Linked DNA regions of Homo sapiens. The protein of the gene in region 1 interacts with the protein of each later gene in a biochemical or structural test. Each region holds a gene or a part of one and is shown in the gene's direction. Other genes may lie near its edges. The genes, in order: RPRD1B and RPAP2.

Evidence for each region.
Region 2: the proteins of RPRD1B (region 1) and RPAP2 interact in a biophysical measurement, tested with the Homo sapiens proteins (one study listed by IntAct).

What each region holds. Positions count from the first base shown.
Region 1 is NC_000020.11:38,085,602-38,089,518, forward strand, and holds part of RPRD1B (regulation of nuclear pre-mRNA domain-containing protein 1B), read left to right. Parts: exon of another isoform or gene 1-45; intron 46-1,095; exon of another isoform or gene 1,096-1,245; intron 1,246-2,261; exon of another isoform or gene 2,262-2,410; intron 2,411-2,507; exon of another isoform or gene 2,508-2,819; intron 2,820-3,917. UniProt on the Homo sapiens protein: Interacts with phosphorylated C-terminal heptapeptide repeat domain (CTD) of the largest RNA polymerase II subunit POLR2A, and participates in dephosphorylation of the CTD by RPAP2. Transcriptional regulator which enhances expression of CCND1.
Region 2 is NC_000001.11:92,301,860-92,305,776, forward strand, and holds part of RPAP2 (putative RNA polymerase II subunit B1 CTD phosphatase RPAP2), read left to right. Parts: intron 1-2,117; coding exon 2,118-2,216; intron 2,217-2,424; coding exon 2,425-2,490; intron 2,491-3,917.

The sequences.
Region 1 (3,917 bases):
TGGCAGCAGAGCTCGTGAACTACACTTGTGTGAGAAGACAGGCTGGTAAGTTGAGACACGAGATTCTTGGATTTTCCTGAGACCTTTCTCCTTCATCTCTCCAGACCCAAAGAGAATAACCTGGAAAGTCAGCTAGTGAGGGTCTGCAAGACCCAACTGAGAGAGCTTAAGAACCAGAGAATTTGGAGGCAGGTGAAGGCTGGAGTTGTATTTGGGGGAGTTTTGTTTGGAGTCAGTCTTTTTTTTTTTTTTTTTTTTGAGACAGGGTCTCACTCTCACCCAGGCTGGAGTGCAGTGGTGTGATCTTGGCTCACTGCAGTCTCCACCTCCTGGGCTCAAGCAATCTTCCCACCTCAGCCTCCTGAGTAGCTGGAACTATAGGCATGTGCCACCACGCTTGGCTAATTTTGCATTTTTTGTAGATGGGGTTTTGCCATGTTCGGGCACAAGTGATCCACCTGCCTCAGCCTCCCAAAGTGTTGGGATTACAGGCGTGAACCACCTTGTCTAGCCTGGAGTCACTGTTAATTTCTTCTGTTGGTCCATGGCAAGGTTTACAGATGACTTTGTTTGGAAAGCCTGAATCTGTTTTTAAAAGCAGGGATGGGGAGTGGGAAATCACAGTAGTTACTACTTGAGTCTATTTAGTGGACTATAAAAATTACTATAGCTTCAGTTTAACCTAATCAGAGCTTGCCATGAATTCGAGCCTGCTTGCCTCTCTTCAGGAAATTAATCTGGGTCATTTGACTGTCCCAGTTAAGCAGGTACATGTTTTAACAGTTTTAAAGGCAATTGCTGCCTGTATTTGGTTTTTCAGAGTATATACCCGGTTATCCTTGCCAATACATTTAAACCTCTTAGCCTACAGATCTTTTCTTTTTACCAGCCTCAGTGTTTTGTGTTTTTCATTTTTTTGTGGAGACAGGGTCTCTATTTCCCAGGCTGGTCTCGAACTCCTGGCCTCAAGCAGTCTGTCTGCCTCAGCCTCTGAAAGCATTGGGATTAAAGGCGTGAGCCACCATGCCCAGGCCAGCCTTGATGTTTATTAATCCTTTTCAGTGACAGTCTCACTCTCCCTCTTTCTTTCTCTAGTGATTCCTTCCTCTGACGCCTGCTCTTACAATAGGCGTCCCTGCGAGAAGAGTCACCCAGTGGCATCAAGAGCTCTGGGCAGGATCCGTCCACTTCCAGAGTGGCCTGAAGAGTGGAACACATTTCTTTTTAGTTAAATGAGTTTCTTCGGTAATGTCCAGAATATAATAGCCTAAGCATGATGGAATCCCCCGTACCCCACCCTATACCCCCTTCCAAACAGAAACAACTGTTGTTTGGTTTTTTGGGGTTTTTTTTGTTTTTTTGTTTATTTTTTTGACACGGAATTTCACTCTGTTGCCCAGGCTGGAGTGCAGTGACACAATCTCAGCTCACCACAACCTCTGCCCCGCCGGGTTCAAGCAATTCTCCTGCCTCAGCCCCCTGAGTAGCTGCGATTAACAGGCACCCACCACCCTGCCCAGCTAACTTTTGTATTTCTTAGTAGAGATGGAGTTGCACCATGTTGCCCAGGCTGGTCTTGAACTCCTGACCTCAGGTGATCTGCCTGCCTCGGCCTCCCAAAGTGCTGGGATTATAGGCATGAGCCACTGCGCCTGGCCACAACTGGGATTTTTAAGAAATTGCCTAGGAGAGAGTTAGTTGAACTTAAGGTGGTGTCTAATTAGAGCAAAGTGCCTTCCATTTTAACTTCAATGAACTTGCCACGTTGGTCTGATGATAACCCAAGAGTAAGGAGTCTTGGATTCTGATCCCAGCTCAGCTTCTAGAGACTTGGTGGTTTTCAAATTGTTCTTGAGGGACTCCTTCAACTGAAGGGCTCCCTAGTTGCCAAGAGTGGTTGGTTCTGAGTCGAGGTGGCTTTGATTTGTCAGCTTTGGTCAGAGAATTCAGGCAGGGGGCAGGAAGTCCGTGTTCTGTAGTTGTTTTGTTATTTTACCCTTTTTATACCTTCCATTCAGGAGAAGTTTATTAGATGAATCCGTGTCCAGAAATAGAGAATTAGTTGCCTTCATCCTTTATATTAATTTCCCTTGAAGTATAAACAGCCAAAGAAGAAAAGTACTTGTGGGAGAAAGGGGGTTCAGATCCTCAAATTTGAAAATAGTTTTCAACTTCAGGAACGTGAAAGGTGACTGTTAACCAAAGTCTGAGTCTCAGGAGCTACTTCATGTGGTATGCTTTTACCTGATGTTATGTTTTAGATATGGCTCATTCATTCGGCACATGTGCTGGGTGCCTACTGTTTGCTGGACACTGCGGAGCCTGGTGGATGCTGGGGGAAGCAGATGGGTCTGGTCCTGGCCTCCAGGAGCTTACTAGTTAAATGTGGGAGTCATTGCTAATCATTTACGTAAGTCATTGTTTAATTTTAGTTGTGGTAAGTTTACAAAGAAAAGAAATGGGCTGCTAGGAGAGCTCACTCTCTACCCTTTTCTCTTCCTTTGTAGACTGTGTGAGGAGCTCTCATTGCGGGTGGGAGACTGATTGCCTGCAGTAATGGGGAGAGGATATGCCTGGTTCCCTCCTCTCACTCCTTGCTTGGACTTTTGTCTTTACAACTTGAACTAAGTATTCTCCATTTGACCTTTTTCCTGCCTCATTATTCTTCCCAGACATTCTCTAGCTTCTACTTTCTGCCTCTTCAGGTGTGCATCAGGGATCTGGTATCAAGGAATTTAGAACTTGAAAAGAAGTGTTATGGTCCAGTTCCCTCACTTTCAGATATGGAAGAAGGGAACACATCCACGGTCACACAGCAGGTTAGAGGCAGAACCAGGACCAAGCCTAGGTCTCTGCATCTCAGCCCAGGGCTTCTTGTTACATTCCTGCAGGAAGGGCTTTCTAAGTCAGCAGGGGCCCAGCGTCAGGGACCTACTTACCCTTGCAGAGACACTGAGAGGACAAAAACTAAGCCCCAAGGGGGCCAACAGCCCCAGACTTCACATGGCCTAGGGTTGTTTTCTATATATCTTGGCAGATTTATCAAGAGTACCTTTTTCCGGGAGCTGAGGAAAGAAAAAAAATATGCCCCATTCCTATCATTAGGGGATTCATATTCTAGAGGAACATAGAAGTCTCACATGTATGGAGAGAGCATAGAGCAGCTTGCTAGGGGCTCAGGTACACACCCTGTGTGAGGGAGAGCTCTGGAGCAGGAGGAGATGCGGAGTCGTCTCCTGGATGCAGAGCAAGGATTTTCCTAGAGAGGTGGAGTCCAGATAGTCCAAGGAGCAGAGGAGTGGAGGCCAGGCTTTGCTAGGGCTAGGAGAAGAGAGAGACCCCCTCCAGGCTTGCGGGGAATCCTGAAAAAATGGTCCACACAGACAAAGAGGGTTAGGAGGTTGTGAGGCAGGGGCTGATTTTGTAAGACCTTGAACTCTGCTCTGAAGGACCAGATCATGGAGCTAGTGGGGTGCCGTGCCTCACTTTCTCAAGGGAGTGGTTTCATGAAAGCTGGGCTTTTGGGAGAGAAGTCTGGTGGCATTTTAGGAGCCCTAGGGGTCAGGAGGCCTAACCAGGGACTTACTGCAGTGACTCAGTTATGGAATGAGGAGGCCCTGGTCACAGGGAGTAGCAGTGGGGTATTTTGAGCTTCTATAGTGCTTGTTTGCAAAACATGATAAATTTAGGTTAATCTCCAAGCTTTAACATAGGAAGTATAACTTCAGTGTTTTTTTTCTTGCCATATCTAGGTGGAGTCCGCAAAGAAATTGTGAGGCTCAGGTGTCTGTTTTATTTTATAAAGCATTTTGAAACTTTTGAGAACCAACAAAAAGAGAATGCAAATACCAAGTGTTATTTCTTTCTACTTCCAAATCTCAAGCCCTAAATTGAATACCATTTAATTCACTGTTGCC
Region 2 (3,917 bases), on another chromosome or scaffold:
GTTCTCACCACAAAGAAATGATAAATATGTGAGGTGATAGATATGTTAATTAGCCTGATTTGCTCAATGTATACATGTGTTAAAACATCACATACTACCCCACAAATATATACAATTATTATTGTCAATTAAAAAGCAAAAGAGGCCAGGCACAATGGCTCATGTAATCCCAGCACTTTGGGAGGCTAAGGCAGGCGGATCACTTGAGGTCAGGAGTTCGAGACCAGCCTGGCCAACATGGTGAAACCTCGTTTCTACTAAAAATACAAAATTAGCCAGGTGTGGCTCATGCCTGTAATCCCAGCTGCTCAGGAGGCTGAGGCATGAGAATCACTTGAACTCAGGAGGCAGACGTTGCAGTGAGCTGAGATCACACCACTGCACTCCAGTCTGGGCAACAAGAGTGAGACTCTGTCTCAAAATAAGTATATAAATAATAAATGGGAAAAAAGAAAAATGAGGATGGGGGAGAAAAAAAAAAAAAGAAAAAGCAAATATATTTTACCCTTAGTCATAGTTCTTTTAACCAGTCTGCTAATATCACTTGATTTTCTTCAATTTGTTCTAATGATTGCAATTCCAGTTTTCTATATTCTGTGTTGTGTTATTTTAAGTAACAGAAGAATATTATTTTTGTCAATGTAATTTCATCAATTTTCTTATTTCAAAAACCTGAAATACAGCTCATTTATGACTCAACATAAAACGGGAGAATTAAATTCCGCATTAAATTTTTTTTTTTTTTTTTTTTTTTTTTTTTGAGACGGAGCCTCACTCTGTCGCCCAGGCTGGAGTGCAGTGGCGGGATCTCTGCTCACTGCAAGCTCCGCCTCCCGTGTTCACGCCATTCTCCTGCCTCAGCCTCCCGAGTAGCTGGGACTGGGCGCCCACCATTACGCCCGGCTAATTTTTTTGTATTTTTAGTAGAGATGGGATTTCACTGTGTTAGCCAGGATGGTCTCGATTTCCTAACCTCGTGATCCGCCCGCGTCGGCCTCCCAAAGTGCTGGGATTACAGGCATGAGCCACTGCTCTCGGCCCGCATTAATTTTTTTTTGGCCAGGCACGATGGCTCATACCTGTAATCCCAGCACTTTGGGAAGCCAAGGCGGTAGGATCGCTTGAGCCCAGGAGTTTGAGACCAGTCTGGACAACACAGCGAGACCCTGTCTAAATAAAAATTTGAGAATAAAAAAATTTTGAAACAGCTTTACTACATTAAAATTTTGAATGGAAATTTCTCTTTATATTTTTGTAATCCTTAAGAGGGCAAATTAAAACTCAAAGCTTCTATTACAAAAACACTTCTTAGTGTAGTTGATAGATCTTTTTCTAAACAGGAATATGAACATGACAATTCATATTTTTATTGACACAGGTAACTGCATCAGAATCTGCATATTTGATGACACCAGAAAAGACAAAGGCAAATATGCTTCATTTGAAACATAAAACTTACATCACTCTCAATAAAAAGTATTTCTGTCTCTGTGAAAACAGAAAAACTTGTTAAAAGATCTCAAAGTTATGAACAAGAATCAAAATTATTTGATCATGAAGATGTCAAAGGAAAATATTTGATGTTAGCTTATAACCATCACCTCACCACTCTGTACAGATTTTTCAGAAGTAGGAAAATTTTGCACAAACTGTGTTCTGCAGTAACAATGACACTTTTGAAATACTTTGTTTTTAAAGATTATGCTTTAAAAAATAGGTAAAATTATATTTTATTATTTTGTGATTTAGTTAATTTTTTAAATAATACTTTTTCAAAAATAAAAGATACTGTTGTCATTTAGCTTGTGTATAGCTATAGCATCACTTCTTCCTCATGCCTCAGAATTATTTCATTTAACTATATAATCTACAAAGATGCAGAGACTACTGTGGCAGAAATTTTTTTAATAATAACTTTTTTTTTGAATGCTCACTATATGTTGAGCACTTCTCTAAGTGATTTTGCTTTATTTTCTCCTCTAATTCTAACCTCTAACTTATGAGGAAGGTACTATTGCTATCCCTGTGTTTTCAGATAAGATTGATGAGGCTTAGAGAGCTGATAAATGAACTTTTCTATTAAACTAGGAGGAAATAACCCTCTCATTTCATTTTAGGGGAGGTTCATTACACCTGCTCACTACAGTGATGTCGTGGATGAACGTTCTATTGTCAAACTCTGTGGTTATCCTTTATGTCAGAAGAAGCTGGGAATTGTAAGTAACTCATTTTTTTTAAAATATAGGCTTTTATTATTTTCATTTAGCAAAATACTTTGTTGTAAGAATAAGAAATAAAACCTAAGGTCATGAACTAAAGGCATGGATTGGCCAATGATATGATATGTAGATGACTTAATCTTGTAACATAACGTTCATGTTTATTATTTGGATTCTTTTGTAAGCTGTACTTTCTTTTCTTTAGGTACCAAAACAGAAATATAAAATTTCTACCAAAACCAATAAAGTCTATGATATTACTGAAAGAAAGGTGAGTTTAAAGGCTTTCATTGTGGCAATTAATTTTTTTTCTTTACTAACCACTATCCTAACAAGGCATGGCAATTAATTTTTAATGATATTAAATAGGATTCTAAAAGAAACTTTAAAATCTTACTGGTTAGAAAATAGTGATGTTAAAAGTTTGATTTTATTTGTAAATATTTCAATCAAGGTATTAAAAATTTTTTTGCTTAAGCTTCAATTAAGACTTGAACATTTAAAAGTGCATATTGGCACAAATCTGGGCAAATAAATCATGGAACAGAATAGAGAGTCAGCAGCAGACTAACCACATATGTAGACACTTGATATATGACAGCGGGAGTATTGTAGATCAGTAGAGAAAGGATGGATTTTTCAATAAATTATACTGGCACAATTAGTTATGCAAATGGAAAAAATTAAAATTGATGCCTATCTCAGTCTCTATACATAGATCAATTTTAGGTAGATTAAAGACATAAATGTAAAAGGTAGAAGACACTATGGGAGATGCTGGTCGTGGTGGCTCACACCTGTAATCCTAGCACTTTGGGAGGCCAAGGGGGGCGGATTACCTGAGCTCAAGGAGTTGGAGGCCAGCCTGGGCAACGGCAAAACCCTGTCTCTACAAAAAGTACAAAAATCAGCCAAAGGTGGTGGTACGCACCTGTAGTCCCAGCTACTCAGAAAGCTGAGGCACATGCATCGCATGAACCTGGGAGGCAGAGGTTACAGTGAGCCGAGATCATGCCACTGCACTCCAGCCTGGGCAACAGAGCAAGACACTGTCTTCAAAAAAAAGACAATAGACCGGGCGCCCTGGCTCAAGCCTGTAATCCCAGCACTTTGGGAGGCCGAGGCGGGCAGATCACGAGGTCAGGAAATCGAGACCATCCTGGCTAACACAGTGAAATCCCATCTCTACTAAAAATACAAAAAAATTAGCCAAACGTGATGGCGGGCGCCTGTAGTCCCAGCTACTCGGGAGGCTGAGGCAGGAGAATGGCGTGAACCCGGGAGGCGGAGCTTGCAGTGAGCCGAGATCGCACCACTGCATTCCAGCCGGGGCAACAGAGTGAGGCTCCGTCTCAAAAAAAAAAAAAAAAAAAGACAATATGGGAAGATATAAACTTGGGGTAGAGAGACTTCATAAAATAAGATGGAAAATTATAGGCCAAAGAGGAGAAACTGATAAACATTTCTATATTAAAATGTAAAACTTTTGTTCATCAGAAGTTTCAAAAAAAAAATGAAAAGAGAAGCCACAAAGCAGAATGTTAACTGACCATAGAATCATATCTAGAATATATGATCTATAAGAAAAAGACAGACAAACTAATAGAAAAATTTACACAAGGAACTTGAATGGCTAATAAACATATGAAAAGATGCTAAATATTATCAGTAATCAGAGAAATAGCAAATAAAAACACA